Linked DNA regions of Homo sapiens: region 1 is linked to region 2. The links come from fine-mapping of genetic effects on gene expression. Tissue or cell type: uterus. Region 2 holds a variant in brackets; the other region holds the start of a gene. All regions are shown on one strand. Distances are from middle to middle.

What was found. PIP is the estimated chance that this variant, and not a neighbour inherited with it, causes the effect.
Region 1: UPF3B starts here. The variant in region 2 is fine-mapped to the expression of UPF3B in uterus (GTEx, PIP 0.95).

What each region holds. Positions count from the first base shown.
Region 1 is chrX:119,848,921-119,857,022 of GRCh38, forward strand. It overlaps UPF3B (UPF3B regulator of nonsense mediated mRNA decay), which reads right to left and starts at 4,043. Exons shown (of 11, transcript NM_080632.3): 1 at 3,853-4,043; 2 at 2,847-2,953; 3 at 2,575-2,681. The coding sequence starts at 4,008. RefSeq lists an enhancer at 4,018-4,077.
Region 2 is chrX:119,799,904-119,808,005 of GRCh38, forward strand. It overlaps LOC107985694 (a long non-coding RNA gene), which reads left to right. Exons shown (of 3, transcript XR_001755949.2): 3 at 5,476-8,102. It also overlaps a transcript of UPF3B not described here. Among named protein-coding and RNA genes, the nearest start is that of RPL39, 12 kb to the left of the region's middle. The variant A/G (reference allele first, on the strand shown) is at 4,132.

The DNA.
Region 1 (8,102 bases), 49 kb after region 2:
CCAGAAACCACTGAATTGTACGCTTTAAGAGGATGAATTTTATTATAGGTGAGTTATATTTCAATACAAAAACCCCAAGTGACTAATGGGAAAAAAATTCACAAGCACCCTGTCACAGAATGTCAAAAACAAGGTATCCTATCCTTAAATCATTGGCATGTAGACATAAGCAGAAAAATAAAAATAAACAGAATTGACCAGAAGGCACTGCAAAGCAGTCATGGAGGAAAAATTATGTTGGGAATCCCAGTGAGTAGAGAATCAGATTAGCTTCAAAACTGTGATATATTAGGCCAGGCATGGTGGCTCACGCCTGTAATCCCAGCACTTTGGGAGGCTGAGGCGGGTGGATTGCTTGAGGCCAGGAGTTTGAGACCAGCCTGGCCAACATGGTGAAACCCCATCTCCTAAAATTACAAAAATTAGCTGGGCGTGGCGGCACACACCTGTAATCCCAGCTAAGTCGGCAGGCTGAGGAACGAGAATTGCTTGAACCCAGGAGGCGGAGGTTGTAATGAGCCAAGATTGTGCCACTGTACTCCAGCCTGGGCGACAGAGTTAAGACTCTGTCTCAAAAAAAAAAAGAGAGAGAGAGAGAAGAAAAAGAAAAAAAACAAAAATAAAAACCAAAAAACAAAACTGTGATATATTTGAGAAGGAATAGATAAACCAGACTGAAACAGAGGGAAATTGTGGAAGACAGGCTGAAGAAACAGAAGTGAGGCCAGAATATGGAGGACCCTGACTACCAGGCTAAGGAGTTTGGACTTTTTCCCCCAACTGTTAATTTAAATCATTATTTTCAAAAAGATTAATTTCATGGCAATATAATAGACTGAATTATACAAGAATGAAAAAAATGGAAAATCCTGTAAGTTTAGAGACAGTGGTTGTCTAGGCATTAAGTGATGAGGACATAAAGTGTGACTGTTTAAGGCTAGGTGAACAAGATATTAAAAAAAAACAATAAAATCCAGCCTGGGCAACATAAGCAGACCTTGTCTCTAAGATTTAAAAACAAAACAAAACAAACAAACAAACAAAAAACACAATGAGGAAAGGATAGTCTCTTTAATAAGTGGTGTTGAGCTGGGTATGGTGGCTCGCACCTGTAATCCCAGCACTTTGGGAGGCTGAGGTGGGGGGGGGGAAATCACTTGAGCCCAGGAGTTCAAGACCAGCCTGGGCAACGTAGTGAGACCCCATCTCTATAAAAAATTTAAAGAAAATTAGCCAGGCATGGTGACATACATCTGTAGTCCCAGCTACTCAGGAGGCTGAGGTGGGAGGATTGCTTGAGTCCAGGAATTCCAGGCTGCAGTGAGCTCTGATTGCGCCACAGCACTCCAGCCTGGGTGGAGACCCTATCTCAAAAGATAAACAATAAATTGACAAGATTCATAACTTACATGTAAGAGATTTTTAAAAAAGGAAAAAATTAAACACAACTCAGATTTCCAGGCTAAGTAACTAGAATCTAGTTAAATATCTACTGGAATAAAATAGTTGGAGTGGAAAAATAGCTGGCTTGGGGAGATTAATAAAAGTTGGACAAACAGTGGCAATCCTTCAATTTTTACTGGCATAGTCCCTGACAAAAATTTAATTTTTACCAACTTTGAAGTAATATTGAAAAAAACAAAACAAAACAAGAAGACACACTATTTACCTATAATTGCAAACCAAAAAGAAAAGTGGCAAATGGCAGCTTAGATATTCTCTGGCTAAATGTAGGTAGCAGATAATAGAGTGTTAAAGTAGAAATGTGTCTTCCCTATAGACTGGACCTTTCTGGATATAAAGTAAGAGATGTATCAAGTTTCTTTTTTTCGATTTTGAGACAGAGTCTCGCTCTGTCGCCAGGCTGGAGTGCAGTGGCGTGATCTCAGCTCACTGCAACCTCTGCCTCCCAGGTTCAAGCGATTCTTCTGCCTCAGCCTCCCAAGTAGCTGGGATTACAGGCGTGGACCGCCACGCCTGGCTAATTTTTTTAGCATTTTTAGTAGAGATGGGGTTTCACCACGTTGGCCAGGCTGGTCTCGATCTCCTGACCTCGTGATCCACCTGCCTCGGCATCCCAAAGTGCTGGGATAACAGGCGTGAGCCACCACACCAGGCCGAGATGTATCAAGTTTCATGTTTTAATTATATACAACTTTGTGAGAATGTTAAACAGTATCCCAATTGGGAACTGTTGGCTTAATGGATTTGAATTAAATAAATGTTTGTCCTCGAAGCAAAATAAGAAGTAAATATTTAAAACTTATCAAACAAGTTTAAGAGTCACTTATCAGTACTGCGGCTGAAATTCTACAGTCAAAACAGCAGGTTTAAGCCAGGGCAAAAAATGTGTCACACGAGGAGAAAACAGTTGCAATTTCACTCAGTTGATCAAACTAAAAAAATAGTAGGTTAATAAAAATAACCAAGGACTGTGAAAAGTCACGTCTATTTATAAGACTGCAATAAGCTTATTAAATGTGTAAAACTCTAGGAAGCAACGCAATGCACGAGTTGTCTTAAACATACAAATGACAAAGAAATTCCCTTTTTACTTCAGTTACCAGGACTCACCTTTATTGTCAAGGAATACATAACCATCAAAGCGATCCCTGAACAAAATAATGTCCTCTTGGTTTTTAAAGTTGATGTATGCTCTGGCATACATATGAGGATACAAACTGCAGAGAGGAAAGCAATTATGTAAATGTACTCGCAGGTGTCTGGCCCAATTACAAGTATGCATATATTAAAGACAAGCTCAAAAATCAAATGAAAAACAGTAGGATAAAAAGAATGAAAGAAACCTTTTTCATTTACCCCTTTCCTTTTTTTTTTTTTTTTACCTCGTATCATTAGAAAAAAACTCAAAATAATCATGCTCAGGCATAGGTTGAAGATGTTCCTGAAGCTGCTCCTTGGTCAAAGTGGGAGGTAATCTTCGAATTACCACCTTAAGAAATGCATAAGGAAAATAAAATTAGTACAAATCAGTTTTCTGTCATACCTGAAAGAATCACAGTTCCTGAAGAAGGCTGGGCTTTAAAATATGAGATCACTTGTAAAAACCCAGGAGAAAATATTCTTCTGCAGCCCAATGCTCAGAATTAGTCAAACATAATAGTAACGCGGTTTAAAAAAACCCTTGGAAATGAGAACCACCTGGAGCAAGGAAAAATCGCAGGTTTTGCTCTTTACAGCAGCCCTGCAGTTTACCAGGTTTGTGCATCATTTTCGATCACCCATTTTTTAACAGATCTAGTGGCAATAACTTAGTAAGCCAACGCTGGTCTTTGTGGGTGCCACGAAATCTTGATTTAGCAACAAGTTTCTCCCACGTCCAACACATCTTAAAACAAAATCCTTGCCCATTGAACTTAAGAATTCAAAACTCTAACGAATACAAAAAATCTACCCATTGCTCTCAAAATAGGATGCTCTCGATCTACCCTCCTGTACCATTAATCACCCTGCACTCTCCCCCAACTCGCCTCCATGAATAATATTCCCATCCCTCATGTCTCCTTCACTATTTAATATTTCTCCCCAATTACACCTTTAGTTCCTCATTCTTTATACCGTCGCTCTTCCCTCCCATTATCATCTCACAGCTCTGACCTAAACCCTTCCCGTTTGGGGAGTCCCCTCTTTTCCTCACCCCCACCCAGGATTTGGCCGGGAGGGGCTCTCCCCATTTCGGGTGAATGGATGAACCAGGATGATGCGACTTCCATTCAGGCGAAGAGATAGAAGGAGAACCTGAGAAAGAAAGGGGGCAGCCCCATTCCCAGCCATCCTCCCCGCGCTGCGGACTCGTCCCGCCCTCTCCCGGGCCAGCGGCCGACCGGGCACCTTGCTCAGCGCTTCTTTCTTCTCCTTGTTGCGATCCTGCTTATCTTCCCCCTTGGAGCTGTCCCCCGAGGTCCCACCACCGCTGCCTGTGGCCCCGGCGGGGGTTAACAGGGTTACTCGCTTCTCCTTAGGCCTGTGCTCCTTCTCTTCCTTCATGGCTACGTCCCCCGCTGAAGCGGCTTGGCCGGAACGGGGTTACCCCGGGCACAAACGGCTCCCGGGAAGCTCCCGTCAAAGCTCCGCCCCCAACAAATGCCCCTTGTGATAAGTCGGGCCCCACGTTCCATTGGGTCCTGCCAAGCTCTCGCGAGACTTGGGCCTTTCCCAGTGCAAAGGTTTTAACACCTGGTTTTTACTTCCCGCCCGCCAAGTTCCTGCGCCACCCAATCCCCTCGCGGCCCAGACTCCCTCGGGGCCCGCCCCTTCGCGCGTCATTAGCAATTCCGCCATCTTGAAGTGACTCTGTCGGGGACTACAAATCCCGGCATACAAAGCAGCTACCCGCTTTTGTTGGGCGTTCAGGGGCCAGAGCTATCTCAGGGTCCCTGTTTGTGAGTAAATCGAATCCTTTCATCTTCAGAGTTTTCCAGGTCGAAAGATAGGTTCTTCACGCTTAGTTTCCATCAGATAAACTCAATGCCGTCCAAATTTTGCCTCACTAGGGGAGCGACTTGTATTTTTTATCATTGAATTCAGAGGCTTTAGCATTTATTTTCCTACAACTAAAAGAAAAAGCCTAACATTTAAAAAACTTTATTTTCCTTATATTGATTAGGATTTACAGATACTTAGTAAATACTACAATATTAGCCGAGTTCAGTGGCGCACGCCTGTAGTCCCAGCTGCTCGGGAAGGTTGAGAAGAGAGGATCTTGAGCCCAGGAATTCGAGGCTGCAGTGAGCCATGATCGCGCCGCTGCACTCCAGCTTGGGCGACAGAGCGAGACCCTGTATATAAAAAAGAAGGATAATAATAAATAAACACAAGATACTGATATTTAAAGGAGTAATATGACTAAAATATACAAGATTTGTTTTCATCACCTTATTTTAGCAAAAGGATCCTTCTCCCCAGGTACTGATGTCCCACAGGGAGGGGAATAAAAATAAAACCCAACTTGATTTAGTTGCGATCACCATCTTCACTTAAAAAGGGCCAATTTTACATTATTTATAATAACTCCAAACTGGAAACAATCCAAATGTGAATCTAACAGTGATTATGTTGAGTGACAGAATCTAGACACAGAGTACATGTTGTACAATTCCATTTATATGAAATTTTAGAAAAATAAAACCACAGTGATAGAAAGCAGATCAGTCGGCCAGGCGTGGTGGCTCACGCCTGTAATCCCAGCACTTTAGGAGGCCAAGGTGGGTGGATCACCTGAGGTCAGGAGTTCGAGACCAGCCTGGCTAACTTGGCGAAACCCTGTCTCTACTAAAAACAAAAAAAATTAGCAGGGCGTGGTGGCACATTCCTGTAATCCCAGCACTTTGAGAGGCCGAGGCCGGCGGATCACCTGAGATCAGGAGTTCGACACCAGCCTGGCCAACTTGGTGAAACCCTGTCTCTACTAAAATACAAAAATTATCTGGGCATGGTGGCAGGCGCCTGTAGTCCCAGCTATTTGGGAGGCTGAGGCAGGAGAGTCACTTGAACCTGGGAGGCGGAGGTTGCAGTGAGCCGAGGTTGTGCCACCGCACTCCAACCTGGGTGACAGAGTGAGACTCCATCTCAAAAAGAGAGAGAGACACAGACACCCATAGAGGACAGAAACCAAATTAAAGATGCAATAGGAGCCCAAGGCAGAAAGCTGCCTAAGGGCCAACTCCCATTTTTGCCGACCTCTAGAATATATTCCCCTGACTCTGCACTTAAATTTTCTCACTCCAATTGTCCAGCCTATTCTTGGATTCCTATTCCTGTGGCTAAAACGGTTTCCCTGTATTTGACATCTGTTACTCTTGCTTTCAGTACCTGGCCGTTCTTATGAGCCTTGTTTATGCATCTGCCTCTGACCTACTGCTTAGCTCTGCACTTGCATGTTGGTAGTGTATGCCTCTGTTTTGGTGTCCTCACTAGCTTTAAACCACCAGCTGTTTGTCAGTTGCCAGAATAAAGTGTCCCAGGGCTCAGTCCTTAGACCTCTTTTCTATGTACACTCACTCCTTTATTAATCTCATTCATTCTTTTGGCTTTTCTGTCTTTGCTGACAACTCTACTCTAGAATTTACATGTCCAGGCCGGGCGTGGTGGCTCACAGCTGTAATCTCAGCACTTTGGGAGGCCGAGGCGGGTGGATCACCTGAGGTCGGGAGTTCGAGACCAGCCTGGCCAACATGTGACATCCCGTCTCTACTAAAAATACAAAAAAATTAGCCGGGCGTGGTGGCAGGCAGCTATAATCCCAGCTACTCAGGAGGCTGAGGCAGGTGATTCGCTTGAACCCAGGAGGTCGAGGTTGCAGTGAGCCGAGATTGTGCCAGTGCACTCCAGTCTGGGCGACAGAGCGAGACTCCGTCTCAAAACCAAAACAAAACAAAAAAAGAATTTACATCTCCAGCCCATACCTCCCTGATGATTTCCAGAGTCATGTATCCAACTGCCTATTGAACATCTCCACTTAAGACGTCTAACGTGTTCAGCCACCGAATGCATCCAAAACTGAACACTTGATCTTCCCCCACACCAACTGTATTAGCCTCCTATTCCTGCTGTAACATTACCACAAATTTAGTGGGTTTAAATAATGCAAGTGTATTATCTTACAGTTCTGTAGGTTAAAAGTCCAACAAGGTTTTAGCTTTGTCCTGTGAGGGGGCAAAAAAATATAGTAATAATAAATAAACAAACAGTCCAATATGGGTCTCACTGGGCTAAAATCAAGGTGTTGGCAGGACTGAGTTCCTTCCTGGAGGCTCTAGGAGATAATAGATTTCCTTGTCTTTTTCAGATTCTTGAGGCGGCCCATATTCCTTGGCTTATGAACCCTTCGTCTTCAAGCATCTCTCTCTGACCCTGCCCCTACTTCTGTCTATTGTCTATATCTCTTTTATTCTCTGCCTTGCCATTCCAAGTTTTTTTTTCAGGGTCACAGTTCACTGAAGGCTTAAACTCCTGAGCTGAAGTGATCCTCCTGCCTTAGCCTCCCAAATAGCTGGGACTACAGGTGCATGCCACCATGCCCAGCTAATTTATTTTCATTTTTGTAGAGAAGGGGTCTCACTGTGTTGCCCAGGCTGGTCTCCAACTCCTGGCCTCTGCACTTTCCCCTTTCACTTTGAAGGACTCCTGTGTTTACATTGTGTCCGCCTGTAAAATCCAGGATAATCTCCCTATTTTAAGGACAGCTGATTAGCAACATTAATTTCCTTTTGCTATATAACCTAACACAGTCATGGGTTCTGGGGATTAGGATGTGTACAACTTTGGGGGAGATATTATTCTACCTAACACATACTGTAGACTTCCTTTTTGATGAAACTTTTAATTGCAGTATAACAGATGTACAGACAAGTGCACTAAAAGTAAGCATCCAGCTTGCTGAATTTTCACAAAGTGAACACACTTATGTAACCAGCATGTAGATCAAGAAACAAAACATTGCCAGCACTCCAGATGCTCTCTTCCTACTTGTTCCCAGTCATTTTCGCCACCAAGAATACCACTATCCTTTTTGCTTTTTCTTTTTTAGCAGCTACATCCTTTTATGAATGACTTCTAATACTATTGAGTTTGTCTGTTTTGAACTTTATGTAAATTGAATCATACAGCATGTATTCTTTTATGTTAGGCTCCTTTCTCTCAACATTTATGACTGAGATTTCTTTATTTATTTATTTAGAGACGGAATCTCGCTCTGTCGCCCAGGCTGAGGTGCAGTGGCGCCATCTTGGCTTACATCTTGGCTCACTGCAACCTCCACCTCCCGGGTTCAAGCGATTCTTCTGCCTCAGCCTCCCGAGTAGCTGGGAGTACAGGCGTGTGCCACCACGCCCGGCTAATTTTTGTATTTTTAGTAGAAATGGGGTTTCACCATATTGGCTGTTGGATACAGTGAGATCTAGATCTCTCTTCAAAGAATCAGTATGTCAGTATGTTCAGTTCTTTGTCCTCCATTGTAAAGTTTAACTTCCTCGTAGTTTCAGTAAACAACATTTTCCACCAGTTTTCATCAGTAGTTCACATCTGTTCCCCTGGTTACCTGCTCCGTCCTGACTCACCCCGGTCATCCGCTTTGACCTGAG
Region 2 (8,102 bases):
TCCCAAAATATTCTTTTGATTTTTTTCAACCATTCAAAAATACAGAAACCATTCTTAGCTCTCAGGCTGTACAAAAACACGCAGTGGCCAGGTTTGGTCCATAGGCTGTAATTTGCTGAGCCTAGGCCTAGATAATTATGTCAAGACTCTCCTCTCCCTCCTCAAACCTGCAACCCTTCTTCCTCCATTCTCACACTCAGTTGAGGACCTGGCTTCCTAGTCACTGAGAAAATTTAAGCAATCACAAGAGAACTCCCACAGCCCATCCACACATGCTATCTGCCAACACCTCCACGTGACTATTCCCCCATCCCTCTGTTACTGTGAATGAAACGTTTGAACTATGTCCGGCCTGTCTGCTCGCTTGTGCCCTAGATCCAAACCTCTCTCGCCCATTCAACAACCCTGCTCTGACTAGTCTTCCCTTTCTGTCCTTGCTGTTCACTGCATTATTCCCATCAACATACAAATAAATATGCTGTCATCTTAAAAAAGCTGCTTTTTACTCCAACTCCCTTGCCAGCTACTTCTTCTTCTCCTTCCCTTTACAACAAAACCCTGGTAAAGATTTGTCTTCATTCACTGTTTCCAACTTCTCTCCCATTCTTTAAGTGAGATACAATTCACGTAATATGAAAATCACCGTTTTTTTATTTTATTTTATTTTTGAGACAGAGTCTTGCTCTGTCAGGCTGGAGTGCAATGGCGTGATCTCAGCTCACTGCAACCTCGGCCTCCCGAGTTCAAGCGATTCTCCTGCCCCAACCTCCCAAGTAGCTGGGATTACAGGCATGCACCACCACACCCAGCTAATTTTTGTATTTTTAGTAGAGGCAGGGTTTCACCATGTTGGCCACGCTGGTCTTGAACTCCTGACCTCAGGTGATCTGCCCACCTCGGCCTCCCAGAGTGCTGGGATTACAGGTGTCAGCCACCGCACCGGCCACTATTTTATTTTATTTTATTTATTTTTGAGATAGAGTCTCTGTCACCCAGGCTGGAGTGCAGTGGCATGAACTCAGCTCACTGCAACCTCCGCCTCCTGGGTTCTAGTGATTCTCCTACCTCAGCCTCCCAAGTAGCTGGGATTACAGGCATGTGCCACCACGCCTGGCTAATTTTGTATTTTTAGTGGAGATGGGGTTTTGCCATGTTGGCCCAGCTGGTCTTGAACTCTTGACCTCAGGTGATCCACCCGCCTCAGCCTCCCAAAGTGCTAGGATTACAGATGTGAGCCACCGTGCCTGGCCTAGCAGTCACTCTTTCATTCCCACTCTTCTCTCAGCCCTAGGAAACCACTAATCTATTTTCCGTCTCTGTGGATTTGCCTATTCTGGATATTTTATATAAATGGAGACACAATATGTAGCCTTTTGTGTCTGCTTTCTTTCACTTAGCATAATGTTTTCAAGGTTCATCCATGTTGTAGCATGAATCAGTATTTCATTTTTTTTAGAAGTGGGGTCTCACTATATTGCCCAGGCTGGTCTTGAACTCCTGAGCTCAAGCAATCATCCCACCTTGGCCTCCCAAAGTGCTAGAATTACAGGTGTGAGGCACTGTGCCAGGCCAACATTTTTTATTTTTTTTAATAGAGACAGGGTCTCACTATGTTGCCCAGGCTAGTCTCGAACTCCTAAGTTCAAGTGATGCTCCCACCTCAGCCTCCCAAATGCTAGGATTACCTGGAAGAGCTCTCATGCCCGGCTCATTTTTCTTTCTCTTTCTCTTTCTTTTTTTTTCTTTCTTTCTTTCCTTTCTCCTTTTTTTCTTTCTTTCCTTCCTTCTTTCCTTCTTTCCTTTCCTTCCTTCTTTCCTTCCTTCCTCCCTCCCTCTTCTCTCTCCCTCCTTTCCTTCCTTTTTTCCTTCCTTCCTTCTTTCATTCCTCCCTCCCTCCCTCTCTCCTTCCCTCTTTCCTTCCTCCTTCCCTCCCTCTCACTCTTTTCCTTGCTTCCTTTTCTTTCTCTTTTTCTTTTTCTTTCTCTCTCTTTCTCTTTCCCTCCCTCCCTCCTTCTCTTTCCCTCCCTCCCTCCTTCTTTCTTTTTTCTTTCTCCTTCCTTCTTTCCTTATTTCCTTTTCCTTCCTTCCTTCTTCTCTTTCCCTTCCTTTCTCCCTCCCTCCCTTTTCTTTCTCTTTTCTTTCCTTCCTTTCTCTTTCTCCTTCCTTCCTCCTCCTTTTTCTCTTTCTCCCTTTCTCTCCTTCCTTCCTTCTTTCCTTTTTTCCTTCCTTCCTTTCTTCCCTCCCTCCCTCCCTCCCTTTTCTTTCTTTCCCTTCCTCCCTCCCTCCCTTTCTTTCCTCTTTTCTTTCTTTTTCCTTCCTTCCTTCCTTTCCATTTTTTTCCTCCTTCCTTTCTTTCTTCTTGACAGAGTCTTGCTCTCTTGCCCAGGCTGGAGTGCACTGGTGTGATCTTGGCTCACTGCAACCTCTGCCTCCTGGGTTCAAGCAATTCTCCTGACACAGCCTCCTGAGTAGCTGGGACCACAGGCTTGTGCCAACACGCCTGGCTGACTTTTGTATTTTTAATATTTTTTCTTTTTTTTTTTTTTTGGTGTTTATTTTTTTGAGACAGAGTCTCAGTCTGTCACCCAGGCAGCAGTGCAGTGGCGCGATCTTGGCTCACTGCAACCTCCATCTCTCAGGTTCAAGCAATTCTCCTGCCTCAGCCTCCCAAGTAGCTTGGATTGCAGATGTGCACTACCACGCCCGGCTAATTTTTGTATTTTTAGTAGGGGTGGGGTTTCACCATGTTGGCCAAGCTGGTCTTGAAGTCCTGACCTCAAGTGATCCTCCCGCCTCGGCCTCCCGAAGTGCTGGCATTTCAAGCATGAGCCACCACGCCCAGCCGTATTTTTAGTGGCCAACCTTGCTGGCCACTCCTCCTCCTTGAAACACTTTTCTCTTGGATTAAGTAACACCGGAGTCTTCTGGTATTTCTCCTACTCTGGCTATTCTTTCTGTCTTTGTAGATACATTTCCTTACCTCTGTGTAATGTTAAGAGTTCTTTAAGGCTGGGCCCTAGGTCTGCTTCTGTTCCTACTTCACTCTCTCCCCATAAAGTGACAGAATCCATGGTCATGACTTCAATGGACCCCTAAAAATGGATGAATTCCAAATCCATACATCCATTTCCCACCTGCCATTCACCCCTCACTATAACATGGTTTCTATCTCTTTTAGGTCATCAGTTTCATTAGTTCACTAATGAAATCACGACTGCCAAATCCAATGAACACTTCCATTTCTTGTCTTCCTTAATCTCTCTGTGGCATGGGACAATGTCAGCCAATCTCCTTCTTGAAATTTTCCCTTCCCTTAATCCTCTCGCCCATCTGACAGTCATTCACTTTCAATCATTTTTGGTGGCTCTTGTACCTCCCTCTTGGGCTACTTGTTTCTAAAAGCTGAGGAAACAAAGTTATTTAGAAAGTAAAGGCAAAGTGATGCCATGTTAGGAAGGGCTGGCAGAATGAATGAAAATCAGGCAAAAGCTCAAGGATGTTGTCTAAACATTTTGTTCTTAAGGGACCAGAATAGTTGATGTGGTTTGGATATTTGTCCCCACCCAAATCTCATGGAAATATAATCCCCAGTGTTGTAGGTGGGGCCTGGTGGGGTGTTGGGGTTATGGGGCAGATCCCTCATGGCTTGGTGCTGTCCTCTCCATAGTGAGTTTTACAGAGCTGGTTGTTGTAAAGTGTGGCACCTCCTCCCCGCACTCACTCTCTTGCTCACTCTGTGATGTGGGATGTCTTCTGCTTCACTTTCCACCATGAGTAAAAGCTCCCTGAGGCTTTCCCAAAACTCGAGCAGATACCAGTGCCACACTTCCTGTACAGCCTGCAGAACTGGGAGCCAATTAAATCTCTTTTCTTATAAATTATCCAGTCTCAGGTATTTATTTATTTATTTATTTATTTATTTTTCTGAGGCAGAGTCTCATTCTGTTGCCCAGGCTGGAGTGCAGTGGTGTGATCTCGGCTCATTGCAGCCTCCACCTTCCTGGGTTCAAGTGATTCTCCTGCCTCAGCCTCCTGAGCAGCTGGGATTACAGGCACCTGCCACCATGCCTGGCTAATTTTTGTATTTTTAGTAGAGATGGGGTTTCATCATTTTGGCCAGGCTGGTCTCAA[A/G]CTCCTGACCTCAAGTGATCCGCCCATCTCAGCCTTCCAAAGTGTTGGGATTACAGGCGGGAGCCACTGCACCTGGCCAGGTATTTTTTTTTTTTCTTTTTTTGAGATGGAGTCTCACTCTGTCACCCAGACTGGAGTACAGTGGCACAATCTCGGCTCACTGCAACCTCCACCTCCCTGGTTCAAGTGATTCTTCTGCCTCCGCCTTCTGAGTAGCTGGGGACTACAGGCGTGTGCCACCACGCCCAGCTAATTTTTTGTATTTTTAGTAGAGATGTGGTTTCACCATGTTGGCCAGGCTGGTCTCAAACTCCTAACCTCGTGATCCACCCACCTCAGCCTCCCAAAATGCTGGGATTACAGGCATATGCCACTGCCCCCAGCCCCGGCCAGGTATTTCTTTATAATAATGTAAGAACAGCCTGTATTAGTTCGTTTTCACACTGCTGATAAAGACATACCCGAGGCCAGGAGTGGTGGCTCATGCCTGTAATCCCAGCACTTTGGGAGGCCGAGGCAGTGGATCACCTGAGGTCGGGAGTTCAAGACCAGCCTGGCCAACATGGTGAATTCCCATCTCTACTAAAAATACGAAATTTAGCCAGGCACGGTGGCGGATGGCTGTAATCTCAGCTACTAGGGAGGCTGAGGCAGGAGAATTGCTTGAATCTGGGAGGTGGAGGTTTCAGTGAGTTGAGATCACGCCACTGCACTCCAGCCTGGGTGACAGAGTAAGACCTTGTCTCAAAAAAAAAAAAAAAAAAAAAAAAAGACATACCCGAAACTGGGATGGAAAAGAGGCTTTAATGGACTCACAGTTCCACATGGGTAGGGAGGCCCCACAATTATGGCAGAAGGCAAGGAGGAGCAAGTCATGTCTTACATGGATGGCAGCAGGACAAAAAGAGCTTGTGCCGGGGAACTCCTCTTTATGAAACCATCAGATCTTGTGAGACTTCTTCACTATCATGGGAACAGCACAGGAAAGACCTGCCCCATTATTCAATTACCTCTCACTGGGTCCCTCACACAACATGTAGGAATTCAAGATGAGATGTGGGTGGGGGCACAGCCAAAAAACATCAGGCCTAATATAGGAGTGAACCATGAACTGATTTTTCCCTGGTAGACAAAACAAAGGCATGCCAGTGAAAGCAGAAACTAATATCATTCATGCACTTTTGAAATTCTCCAGAGGTTAATTCAGTATCAAAAATTTAATTTCTCAAATATAACAGCTATTTAGTGAAGTTAATAAACACACTTAGCTTCATACTTGAATGTTGTTACTATTTATTGACATCAAAACAAAACAAGCTGAGACTAAAAGTTGCTATTTAACAGGAACAGACATTGATGCAGTTTCCTTCCTGGAGAGGGTACACACTCAGATCATGAGACCTAAGATAAAACACACACTGGATTGTCAAGAATCAAACAAGGACTACCAATGGGATCTAATTAAACTAAAGAGCTTCTGCACAGCAAAAGAAACTACCATCAGGGTGAACAGGCAACCTACAAAATGGGAGAAAATTTTCGCAACCTACTCATCTGACGAAGGGCTAATATCCAGAATCTACAATGACCTCAAATAAATTTACAAGAAAAAACAACCCCATCAAAAAGTGGGCTAAGGACATGAACAGACACTTCTCAAAAGAAGACATTTATGCAGCCAAAAAACACATGAAAAAATGCTCATCATCCCTGGCCATCAGAGAAATGCAAATCAAAACCACAATGAGATACCATCTCACACCAGTTAGAATGGCAATCATTAAAAAGTCAGGAAACAACAGGTGCTGGAGAGGATGTGGAGAAATAGGAACACTTTTACACTGTTGGTGGGACTGTAAACTAGTTCAACCATTGTGGAAGTCAGTGTGGCGATTCCTCAGGGATCTAGAACTAGAAATACCATTTGACCCAGCCATCCCATTACTGGGTATATACCCAAAGGACTATAAATCATGCTGCTATAAAGACACATGCACACGTATGTTTACTGCGGCATTATTCACAATAGCAAAGACTTGGAACCAACCCAAATGTCCAACAATGATAGACTGGATTAAGAAAATGTGGCACATATACACCATGGAATACTATGCAGCCATAAAAAATGATGAGTTCATGTCCTTTGTAGGGACATGGATGAAACTGGAAATCATCATTCTCAGTAAACTATTGCAAGAACAAAAAACCAAACACCGCATATTCTCACTCATAGGTGGGAATTGAACAATGAGATCACATGGACACAGGAAGGGGAATATCACACTCTGGGGACTGTGGTGGGGTTGGGGGAGGGGGGAGGGATAGCATTGGGAGATATACCTAATGCTAGATGACGAGTTAGTGGGTGCAGCACACCAGCATGGCACATGTATACATATGTAACTAACCTGCACAATGTGCACATGTACCCTAAAACTTAAAGTATAATAAAAAATAAAAAAAGCTGAAGATAAAAGCAGATGTTTGAAAATATTCTTCATGCTAAGCTCATGTAAGCAAACAAAAAACTAAAAGTAATCCTTAAACTTTAGGACATTAGATGCAGAAGTAACATGACTATTTAAATTTTGGCACCAACAAAAGTTTGTTCTATCCTTCACTGTACTTATACTACAAGGACATGCTTGTTGCTTCTACACTTCCCAAAGTCAACAGTTATCATCAACAATGCAATAAAACTAGATTGGAATGGACGGGCACGGTGGCTCATACCTGTAATCCCAGCACTTTGGAAGGCCGAAGCGGGGGGAATCACCTGAGGTCAGGAGTTCAAGACCAGCGTGGCCAACGTGGTGAAACCCCATGTCTACTAAAAATACAAAAATTAGCCAGGCAAGGTGGCGGGCACCTGTAATCCCAGCTACTCGGGAGGCTGAGGCAGGAGAATCAGTTGAACCCAGGAGGTGGAGGTTGCAGTGAACCGACATTGAGCCACTGTACTCCAGGCTGGGCAACAGGGTGAGACCCTGTCTAAAAAAAAAAAAAAAAAAAAAAAAGAAAAAAAAAAAAGAAAATTCAACTCGGGATGAACAACAGCTTTTGATTTTAGAACCAGCTCTTACTTTTCTCTCGTGTCATACGTAATGAAGTCCTCACTTGACATTTCCCTGCAAATTGCAATGCATGTCCTCACCATCAGCTTTTTCTGACACTAAAATTAATTTGTATAAATTGCAAAAGCAATGAAATTGTACTTCCAATTCTGAACCTCTGATCAGATTCCTGCTTTGACACAAGACTTACTCCTCTGCAGTGTACCCCACCAGCACAACCACCCCCTTTCTCTCTATTCTTTGCCCTGAAGGCACTTCTGGATTGCTTAACGTGTGCTCTTTGGCTGCCTAGACAGTCAGTACACCTAAGGCCATCTGGACTTAACACTCCCTTCCTCCTTCTTTTCTATGGTTAATATCACTTTCCTGCTTTCTTTCTACTGCTGAATCTCCAGATTGGTGCTGCCATCTTGCCACCAGAATCGACCTGGGCTTCGAGCTCCTGGATGGTAAAGCTTCATCCCTGGATGATCCTGAAGTATAATGAAATATGTTACTGTTAGAACAATGCTAATATGCTTTAAATGGGATTATCAGGTCATATCTTATATATATTAATATATACTAAAGCTCAGTAATTTAAGACCAAAAATGTGAGGGCATGGTAAATGACAACTTGCCCATTTCCTCTCTCCATCTCCAAAGAAAAGCAACCATTTTATAATTATTATTTTATAAGCCTGGTTCAGTTTCTTTTTTTTCAGAGATATCATCTCACTGTGTCACCCAGGCTGAAGTGCAAGTGGCACAATTGCAGCTCACTGCAGCCTCGACATTCCAGACTCAAGCGATCCTCCCACCTCAGCTCCCTAGTAGCTGGGATTGCAGGCAGGTGCAACCACACTGGGCTAAGTTTTTAAATTTTTAGTAGAGAGGGGGTCTCCCTATGTTATCCAG